Regions from separate parts of the Homo sapiens genome. Here region 2 is linked to region 1. The links come from fine-mapping of genetic effects on gene expression. A gene starts in region 1. The other region holds a variant in brackets. All regions are shown on one strand. Distances are from middle to middle. Region 1 holds the start of ELOVL6 (ELOVL fatty acid elongase 6). Region 2 overlaps ELOVL6 (ELOVL fatty acid elongase 6).

Region 1 (5,374 bases):
AGTATGTACTCAAAATATATCTGGTAGGCCAAGTGCGATGGCTCACGCCTATAATCCTAGCACTTTGGGAGACTGAGGCAGGCAGATCACCTGATGTCAGGGGTTCAAGACCGTCCTGGCCAACATGGTGAAACCCTGTCTGTACTAAAAATACAAAAATTAGCTGGGCATGGTGGCACATTCCTGTAATCCCAGCTACTTGGAAGGCTGAGACAGGAGACTCACTTGATCCCAGGAGGCAAAGGTTGCAGTGAGCCGAGATCGCGCCACTGCACTCCAGCCTGGGCAACAGAGGGAGACATCATCTCAAAAAAAAAAATAATTCTGGTGAATTAATGGTGTGGATTTAAAATTGTGATATATGCTGGGTGCCTATAGTCCTAGCGTGGAAAACATAACAAGTCCCCATCTCTAAAAAATAAATGAAATTATCATATAGGCTGCCAAATTGCTTTCCATACAGAGTCACCAGTTTTCAAAGTCACTGACAGTGCTTGTTTGTTTTTGAGATAAGGTCTCACTCTGTCACCCAAGCCGGACTGCAGTGGTGTGATCATGGCTCACTGCAGCCTTGACCTCCCAGGCTCAAGCTATCCTCCCATCTCAGCCTCCAGAGTAACTGGGATTACAGGCATGTACCACCACACCTGGCTAATTTTTAATTTTTTGTAGAGATGGAGCCTCACTATGTTGCCCAGTCTGGTCTCTAGCAATTGTCTTGCCTCAGCCACCCAAAGTGGATTTTCTGTCTTGATTCCTTTCTCACTTCTTACCTTAATTTATTTGATGAATCATTCACTTTACAAATATTTATTGATTATTCACAGGCTCAGGCACCGTGCTAAAATGGTTCTTTCTTATCTGGCCACACCTATCTTCCAGCCCAATCTTGCCAAGAGTTTTGGCCTGGGCCTTACTTCAAAGTGACGTAGACTTGTACTGTAGAGGTCTCTAGAAAGACAACCCTTGGCTGGGCATGGTGGCTCATGCCTGTAATCCCAGAACTTTGGGAGGCTGAGACAGGTGGATCACAGCCAGCCTGGCCAACATGGTGAAACCCCATCTCTACTAAAAACACAAAAATTAGGCGGGCGTGGTGGTGCTTGCCTATAATCCCAGCTACTGGGGAGGCTGAGGCAAGAGAACCATTTGAACCTGGGAGGCGGAGGTTGCAGTGAGCCGAGTTTGCACCACTGCACTCCAGCCTGGGCAACAGGGCGAGACTCCTCCATCTCAAAAAAAAAAAGAAAAAGAAAAAAGAAAGACAACCCTTAATGGGGGAGATGAGGACAGTCCCTACACAGAATCTTTGGCAGTGTCAATGTATACATTAATTTGCTAATCAACTAGGCTAGCCCTTTAATCTATATATTGTACTGGATTTTAAAAATTATTTCTTTACTTTCTCATTAGACCTTCCTCTTTTTTTTTTTTGTTTGTTTGTTTGGAGACAGAGTCTCCCTCTGTCGCCCAGGCTGGAGTGCAGTGGCAGAATTTTGGCTCACTGCAACCTCTACCTCACGGGTTCAAGCGATTCTCCTGCCTCAGCCTCCTGAGTAGCTGAGGTTACAGGTGCCCGCCACCACGCCTGCCTGATTTTTATATTTTTAGTAGAGACGGAGTTTCACCATGTTGGCCAGGCTGTTTTGAACTCCTGACCTCAGGTGATCCGCCCACCTCGGCCTCCCAAAGTGCTGGGATTACTTCTGTGAGCCACCACCGCGGCCGGTCCCTTCCTCCTTTAAAAATTTTTCTCCCAGTTCCCACTTTTTGTGGGTTAGAGGCATCTAAATTGAATGAAAGTACCCTTTTTGGACTACTGGGGAGGTGGGGGGATGTTCTCAGAAGGGGAATTTTCTTTCTGGTCCTAATATCCACCTAATTTTTAAAAGCAGGGCTCCTTATTATTTTGTAAAGTTTACAATTACATCATTAGATACTTCCATGTCTCATATTTCATTTTTCCAAACTCTTGGGGGAAATGAGTGGAGGGATGGATGGAATAGAAAATAGTTTTTCCTCTTGGAGGCTGAGGGCCCAGTAGGGGTCAACAGTACATTCAGCCCTCTCCTCACATATTCTGTTCTACCTACAAGTACAGCAAGTAAAGCCAAATTTCTCATGCATGCAAATAAAGTTTTTGCATTTGGCCAGTCGGTCCAGTTCTCCTGTCAGCTTCCTTCCCCACTCTGCCTCTGTTCATTAATCCCCCCCTTCCCGGTACCTAAACCCTCCACCTAACCCAGCCCTTTCTTCCACTTCCGGCTACTAGCCTCTCTCGCCTATCCACTATCCTCACACTCAGCATCCCCTGTCTGTACGAGATTAAGGAGCTCTGCCGTCCGCAGGGCCTGGGTTAGCGTGAATCTAAGCCAGAGCTCCCGGGTGGGGGTGGGGGTAGGGGTGGGGGTGGTCCCAGAGGTAGGGCGAGGAGGTGGGAAGCGTATTCCCTTCACTGGTGATCTCAACGTAGATTTGCCCGGAGTTCTCTTGCAAGAGAGCTGGCAGGTTTTACTATTTCCCAATCGTTTACTCGCCAAGCTCTCGGGTCCACGCGCCGCGGGGATGCGCCCTGCAAGCTGAAACTTCATTCAAAGCAAGGCGGCCCACGAGGTTGGGCTTAGGGGATCTGGATGACCTCCAGGCCACTTCCTTTCTCTCTGCGCCCTTCCCCCACTCTTCCAACCACCTTCGCTGTAAACAAAACTGTCCCCCCCGGGCGGAGAGAGGTCGCGCTCTTTCGCACACTCCCTCGCCAAGGGTTAATTTCTCAAATCGCACGAGGGGGAGGAGATTTCCCTGTAGACGAGTAAAAAGGGTGATGGACAAACGTGCGGGCACTAAGACCGCAAGGCATTCATTTCCTCCTACGGTGGATGCGGACGCCGGGAGGAGGAGAGCCCCAGAGAGAGGAGCTGGGAGCGGAGGCGCAGGCAATGCTCAGCCCTGGATGTAGCTGAGAGGCTGGGAGAAGAGACGACCGCTGGAGACCGAGCGGCGTGGGGAAGACCTAGGGGGGTGGGTGGGGGAAGCAGACAGGAGAACACTCGAAATCAAGCGCTTTACAGATTATTTTATTTTGTATAGAGAACACGTAGCGACTCCGAAGATCAGCCCCAATGAACATGTCAGTGTTGACTTTACAAGAATATGAATTCGAAAAGCAGTTCAACGAGAATGAAGCCATCCAATGGATGCAGGAAAACTGGTACGTGATGCTTTCGCCTGATACTGTTCCCGGGAGCCCTGCGCGTCTTCCCGGAGTGCCTTAATGTCGGTATTCCCTGCCTGGGCGTGAATGGAGCGATGAATCGCGGGCAGCCAGCTGATCGCTGAGTTCTCGGGTCTCCCGGGTGCAGGAGACGCTGGGGGGGGGGGGGTACATGAAGCGCGAGGTCTGTGGGTGCCCCTGTGTGAACCGCGGCTACATAGGCATCTTTTATATAGATTATATAACACAGAACATATGTGTGTGCACAGGGTGATGTCTGCGCGACAGGGAAGGCGGGAGAGATGCCACAGTCCAGATCGCCTACCTGTGCTCCCCTCCCCTCCCCCGGTTTTCATCTAGATTTGGGTTTTCTCGCTTGGCCTCTCCCGCAACCGGAGTGTGAAAGGCAGTGGAGGGAGGACCTTGTCTCCTGTTGCCTTTAACCCTCTCCCGCCCGCCGCCCTTGGCCCTGGTCCTCGCTGTCTCTCCATCCCTCGTGTCCTTCCTTTCTCCTTGCAGCGCTCCTACTTCACCGTCCTCCTCTGTCTGCCGCTCCTCAGGCGGATGCCCCCTTTTTAGTACCCCTTTCCCCACGCGGTTCCCTTTCCGGTTTCATAGAGAGACCGGGTGGGAGGGAGGAGGGGACAATGAAAACAGTAATAAATGAATGAACCCGAGCGAGTGGAGCCACGCCATTATTAAGTTTCTGTTTTACGGAAACGCCTTTTGGACACACTTCTAATTCTGTGCGTAGCTGCTGATTGGAGTTCAGGCACACAGATTAAAAGCCCCTCCGTCTGCAGAGTCCTTAGGGGCTCTTCCCTAGGAAACTAATAATCAGGGAAAACACCTTTCTTGTTTACTGTAGTCCCCCCGCCAGACCTTTTGAAAATCCCTGTGTGGGAGGCGATCCAGTGTCACCTTGCAATATTTAACAGAGGAGGGTGTGCTCATCTCGCTTCTTGTAGACAGGGTTGTGGCAGAGGCATTCCTCTCCTCCCCTTAACTTCGGGTCTGGCGATCTGTAAAGTTCAAGCCCAACGCACCCCGGAGCTAGGCAAGGGGCCGGCAGCCCGGGGGATGGCTTGACCGGGGAGGGTCGGGCCGCAGGGTCTCCCGGGAGCCGGGGGATTCCGCCCGCCGCGTGCGCGAGCGCGCGTGCCCCGCGCCCTCCCGCCTGCCCTCTTCAACTGGAAACCAGAAACGCCGGCGCGCCTGTGGCCTGGGCGGGTTGGTGCAGTAGGAGCTGGTGCCACGGGGCCGCAGCTGCGAAAAGGGGGTTTCAACTTCCTGTCCTCCAGCCCCCTGGAGTCGCCGGCCAGTGTCGGGAGGCCCGGCCGCCGCTTCCTTCTCCTCCCGCCCGGCCGGAGCGCGCCCACTCCCAGCTTCCCGCGGGCTGGTCCGGGCCCCAATGGCCATTTGCGGCGGCTGCCGGGCGGAGCCCGCCTCCTGGGCCGCGCGCACCGGCGGGGCAGGCCTGCTTGGGGTGAGCTGCGGCGTGGCTGGTGGCGGCGGTGGGCTAGGGGCCCAAGGGCCGCGTCTGGCCCGAGCCGGAGCCTAAGAGGCGGGGACGCGGGCCGCTCGGAAGGACTGGAAGTGCAGCAGCCACACAGGCACAGGGCTGGTGCCCTCCCGGGCCGCTGAGGCCAGGGGGTGCAGGGGTGGGTCCGGAAGGAGGTTGGACACTAAGGGTCGAGACCGCAGATAGACCTCGGCGTTTCGGGGCAGCCGAGGCCCCTCGAGCCCCACCGCCCGGGGTCCTTCTCTGGATGCACTTCCTCCTCCCGCTTAGGGGGTGGTGCTGGAGGCGGGGAGGGGGCGGTGGCCGGAGCCGGCGGGCGCCGGAACCGCGCTGCTGGCTAGCCCCGGGCCCGGGTCTTCTCCGCACATGTTTGTCATATCCTCCAGCCGGCCTGTTCGGGCCCACAGTCCTCCCGCATTAGCCTGTGTGGTCAGTGTGGTCAGCATTTGCTTCTGTGCCGAATCTCTGACTTGCTGCGTCCTGGTTTAACCTGCTCTTCCGGAGTCCGCTTTCCCTCGCTTTGCTGGCTGACCCCATTCACTGTACGCCCGCCATTCCTAGCCCACTGCAGTCGATACTGCCTCTTATTTACTTGTTGCTTTTTCTCTGAGGCCACTTCCTAGGCCTGCTTCAGGTACCAT
Region 2 (5,374 bases), 33 kb after region 1:
ATTTTCAAAGGTGATATTTTGAAAAGCATATGGTGGGGCTCATTTTGTTTAAATGAGCTCTGCACAATGAAAGCACGTGAGAGCAGTTTTTGAAAAAGTTCTGATTGCATCCATTGAATTTGACTTTTTTTTTTTTTCTTTTTTAGACAGTCTTGCTCTGTCGCCCAGGCTGGAGTACAATGGCACGATCTTGGCTCACAGCAGCCTCTGCCTCCTGGGTTCAAGTGATTTTTGTGCCTCAGTCACCCAAGTAGCTGGGATTACAGGCATGCAACACCATGCCTAGCTAACTTTTGCATATTTTTTTAGTAGAGACGGGGTTTCGCCTTGTTGCCCAAGCCGGTCTCGAACTCTGGGCTTCCAGCAATCTGCCCACCTCAGACTCCCAAAGTGCTGGGATTACAGGCATGAGCCATCACACTGGCCTGAATTTGACCCTTACTCTAATGATTTATAGCCATATAATTCTCATGCAATAAGCTAAAAATACACCTAAAAATGATTTACTCTCAAAGGGTTTTAACTTTTTTTCATTGAATCTCTTTTATGTTCACTTAAATTTTGGCTCTGTTCATAAATTGATACAAAGACAAAATTTCCACTAAAATATTAATCTTAAGTAGTAGACGTTTTCTAACTATACCTTCCAATTGGAATTAAGCATTTAATCTAAAATTATATATCAAAAATACAAGAAAGAACTTCCTTAATTGCCTGGATATGTTTCTGCCTCTCAAGGCCTCAGAAAGTTTTGTACAAACTGTTAGAATAGCCCTAATCATGGAGATAGGTGTTTTATTTTTTCTCTCCAAAAGCATAAGAGAGGTTGGGTGCAGCAGCTCACGCCTGTAATCCCAGCACTTTGGGAGGCCAGGGTGGGAGGATGGCTTGAGGCCAGGAGTTTGAGACCAGCCTGAGCAGCACAGGGAGACCCTGTCTCTACATACAAACATACATACATACATACATACATACATACATACATACATACATACATACATACATAACTGAGGTGGTGGCAGGCACCCTGTAGTCCCAGCTACTTGTGGAAGCTGAGGATCATTGCACCACTGCACTCCAGCCTGGGCAACAGAGTGAGACTCTGCCTCAAGAAAATAAATAAAATTTATAATGTTCCCCCTTCACTCCCCTCTCTGCAACCAAAAAAACATCCTTTAGTAACTCTTATGTAACCATTAAAACTATATTATAGAAGAATATATCTTGACAAAAAAAATGTATACCACATGTTGCAGAAAACTCTGCTTATGAAACAGCATGTATAATAACAAGGCCAATTTGTAAACACACACAGAGAGAGACATATTTACAGTTAGTATAAGGTTAAGTACTTAACGCTGTATGTACTAAAACACAAGTCCTTTTACTGTGCATGTAAAAATACTCTAATAGCGATTACATTTTGAAGATGGGATAAAGTTTTTATTCCTGAGAACCAGAAGTGTGTCTCAATGCACCTAATATTTTTGCCAGTGGAGAGATACTGAAACCCTGTGATCTTCAGCTACTGTGTGCATTCAGACTGTTTGGTCTTCTTGGGTCAAGTCAGCTGGTGATTACTAAATGATGAGAGTGTGCCTGACATGCAGGAGACAGGTGAGAAGACAAAGAAATAGAAGGCAATGTCCTAGCATTGGCAGACAGACAGACCCTCTGTATATATTTCAACTTATTTGGATCACAGTCTGTTTAGGAAGGCAGATGTACATGCAAAATACAGTAGAATGCTACAGAAAAAGAACAAATATTCCAGTGCTGGAATATAGTATTATAGTAACTATAGTATAGAAAATCACTATGTGCTAAGAAATTTAGAAACACTCCAGCAAAAGGCAGGGACTTTGAGAGCTAATAGTTGGGTTGATGAAAAAGGAAGACGGAGTTTCCTTTCATGGTGGTAGCACCAGAATACTCATGATGTCTTATATGCTAACCATGAGGGCTGACCATGCTGAGATTAACAGGCAGTGTTCATTGCCTTCTGGCAGCAAGGGCAAAAGTGGAAACACAAGAATTTTTTCTTTTTTTTGAGACGGAGTTTCACTGTCACCAGGCTGGAGTGCAGTGGCGCGATCTCGGCTCATTTACAACCCCTCCTCCCGGGTTCAAGCGATTCTCCTGCCTTAGCCCTTCTAGTAGCTGGGACTACAGGGCGCGTACCACCACACCCAGGTAATTTTTATATTTTTAGTAGAGATGGGGTTTCACGGTTGTTGGCCGGGATGGTCTCGATCTCTTGACCTCGTGATCCACCTGCCTTGGCCTCCCAAAGTGCTGGGATTACAGGCGTGAGCCACCGCGCCTGGCTGAAACACAAGAATTTAAGAGAATTCTTGTTATCTGAAAAGAAAGGTGATGTCTCATTATTGCTCAAGTAAGTTAAGAACAAACCAAGGTCCTAGCCCAAAGACAACAACATTTGAAGGAAAATCAGGGATATAATGTCAAAGAACACTGCAGTCCAGGGGCGAAATGAATGTGCCTTGAGCAACTTCTCTAGGATCTCACTTGATAGCAGGCTGGGATTTATAGTACCCAGGGGAAGGCTGACAGTATCTTTCCTCCAGATCAGCTCTGAGCTGGGCTTTTGTTGATAAGCTGTCCCAGGAGTGCTGAGGCTCTGTCACTGACAGAGGAGGCAGATGTATTGAAAGCAGGATCGTGGGTTGATAATTTGTTAGGGATGTAGAGAAGCCTAACTGGTTTTCTTACGTGGAAAAGACCACCCTCTTTTCCCACTTCCCAGATGTGCTAAACTCTTCTGGCAGAGGATATAGGATTGTCCTTGGGGAATTAGCCTTGGGTTCACTCCAATGCATGGGTAAATGTTTGGTTTTGCAAGGCAGGTGTTACCTGGCCAGCTCCACATACTTTATTACAAAAATCCTCCTGTTAGTTCTGACAGGAATGCATCATAATTGTTATTTTATAGTTGAGGAAGCTGACTCTCAAAGAAGTGATTAACTCATCTCTGTGTGTGATTCAGATGAGATTAGAAC[C/T]GCCCAGCTCCTGAGACCATGCTACTTCCTGCCTACCACAGCCACATGTGCTACAGAGAACAAAGCTGAAGTGCAGGCTGCTGTGTCTCTGAGCTAGACAACCTGAGCTCATCCCTCCTGTTTCTTGCAGTGCTATTAAAATGGAGGATTTGATGAGCAGCAGTAGCTGAGAGGAGAATCAGCCTGGCCTGACTAAGGTTTATGTGGGGTTTGAGGAATAAAGTTGGGTTGTGAGGGTCGATTGGAAGCTTGGAAGCCAGGCTAAGGAGTTGGAGTAGGTCTGCTAGACAGGAAGGAACCACAAAATCAGGAACATAATGGTGGAAGGGCCTCCTGTAAATTGTCGATACTTAACTATTTTGGCCTATGAATGGCAATAGCACATGGTTCCACTAAACAGGTGCCCTGGTATTGTTTTCTGTGAGAGGATAATGGAGAGGGTTGCTTATAGTTTGTAGATATCTAGCAAATGGTCTGTTTTGCTAGTCCAGCTAGTCAGAAACCAGTCCTCTTTTTGAAGAATAGAGATCAAACCTGCTCTACAAGCTTATATGTTTACCACAATTTGGGTGGCATGATAAAGACTAAATGCACAGAAAGGCCACATACCACATTACATTCAGGAAATCCTTTCTTAGTTGGGTGTGGTGGGGTGCACGTGTAGTCCCAGCTCCTCGAGAGGTTGAGGTGGGAGGATTGCTTGAGCCTGGGGGGCAGAGGTTGTAGTGAGCTGTGATTGTGCTACTGCACTCCAACCTGGGCAACAGAGTGAGACTCTGTCTCAAAAAAAAGAAATTCCCCAAAACAAGAAATTCTTTCATCAGAAATAAATGAGCAGCCTACCAACCCACCTGCCTTCCAACCTGAGTGTTTTTTTTTTTTTCTTTTTTTTTTTTTTTTTGAGACAGGGTCCCACTTTCACCCAGGCTGGAGTGCAGTGGCGTGATCATGGCTCATTGTAGCCTTGACCTCCCTGGGCTCAAGCGGTCCTCCCACCTCATCCTCCTGAGTAGCTGGGACTACAGGTGCATGCCACCACACCGGGCTAATTTTTCTATTTTTTGTAGAGATGGGCTTTCGCCACGTTGCCTCAGCTTGTTTCTGCCTTGGCTTCCCAAAGTGCTGGGATTACAGGCATGAGCCACCTCACCCGGCTGTGCTTGCTTTCTTGTGACAAATGTTCATGGCATCTTGTGGCAGACTTATGAAAGCTGAGTTAGGTCAAAGTGTTTCCTTAGTGCCTAGCTCAGAATACTCATGCTATACAAACCGTTTTACTTTTTCCTTTCCTAGGGTGGCCTTGGCTTCATCTTCCCTCACCTTAACTTGTCATCAGGGCAGCAGTGTATCAAACTCTGGGACCTGTGGATTCAGACACAGTTTCAATTCTGCCTTTGCTACTTAATGACTTGGTGAACTTGAGCACATTCATTAACCTCCCTAGGCCCCCATTTCTAAGTGTGAAATTGAGATAATCAAATTAGGCTGTAGTAATAATTAAACTAGTTAAGGTGTGTCAATGGCTTACAAAATGTCCAGCACTTTCTAGGCTCTCCATGAAAAGTAGCTTTTACTGGCATGACTCTCAGCAGATATTTTAGTATTATTTTGCTTTCAACTGAGTAATGAATTCCTAGCCAACATTTTTGAACTTCTCATTACACATTCAGAAATGTCATGTCACAACCAGGGCTAAGAACTTTTCATTGCTCCCAAATTGCCTGTCACTATGACTCAGATTTACCCACCTGATAAGGAAGATTCCTTGACCTTAACTCACCATTCGATCTTACAGTTAGTTCTCCCATTGCTCTATAAGTATCTTATGACCCTGGCAAATTAAACCACTGGAATATCTCTCTTCTTTCTCTATTTCTGAAACTTAGAAAGCCCAACTCAGTGCTGCCACCTTCATACAACCTTTTAAGGTTTTGAACTTTTAATCTTAAACTCTTCCATTTTTGCTTTTCATTTGGCAGTGGTAGATTTTCTCATATTAAAGTCAGTTGTGACTTGTATATCACCCTTCTAGCATTTTATACTCATTGATGATAAGACTTGGCCTTCATCCCAGTCTGCTACACTATGCGGTCAGTCCATAACTGTTAAATTTCAGTGACTCAGTTTGATGAATATTTATTGAGGAGCCTGTATTTGCCAGACTCTGTTCCAGGCACAAGGCCGCTGTTCTCAGAGACCGTTCATACCACTAGGACACAAACACTAAACATGTAAACAAGTATATAGACAAAATAACATTAGATGTTGCTAACTGCTATAAAGAAAATAGTGTGATAGGAGGTGACTTGGGGCCAGAGGGAGCTGTTTTAGCTAGGGGGTCAGGGAAAGCCTTA

Evidence for each region. PIP is the estimated chance that this variant, and not a neighbour inherited with it, causes the effect.
Region 2: its variant is fine-mapped to the expression of ELOVL6 in whole blood (TOPMed, PIP 0.98).

What each region holds. Positions count from the first base shown.
Region 1 is chr4:110,196,081-110,201,454 of GRCh38, reverse strand. ELOVL6 (ELOVL fatty acid elongase 6) reads left to right here and starts at 2,840. Exons shown (of 4, transcript NM_024090.3): 1 at 2,840-3,208. The coding sequence starts at 3,120. RefSeq lists enhancers at 2,467-3,259, 4,848-5,142 and silencers at 4,174-4,803, 5,004-5,113.
Region 2 is chr4:110,163,286-110,168,659 of GRCh38, reverse strand. The region is part of intron 1 of ELOVL6 (ELOVL fatty acid elongase 6); the gene reads left to right. Among named protein-coding and RNA genes, the nearest start is that of ELOVL6, 33 kb to the left of the region's middle. The variant C/T (reference allele first, on the strand shown) is at 3,021.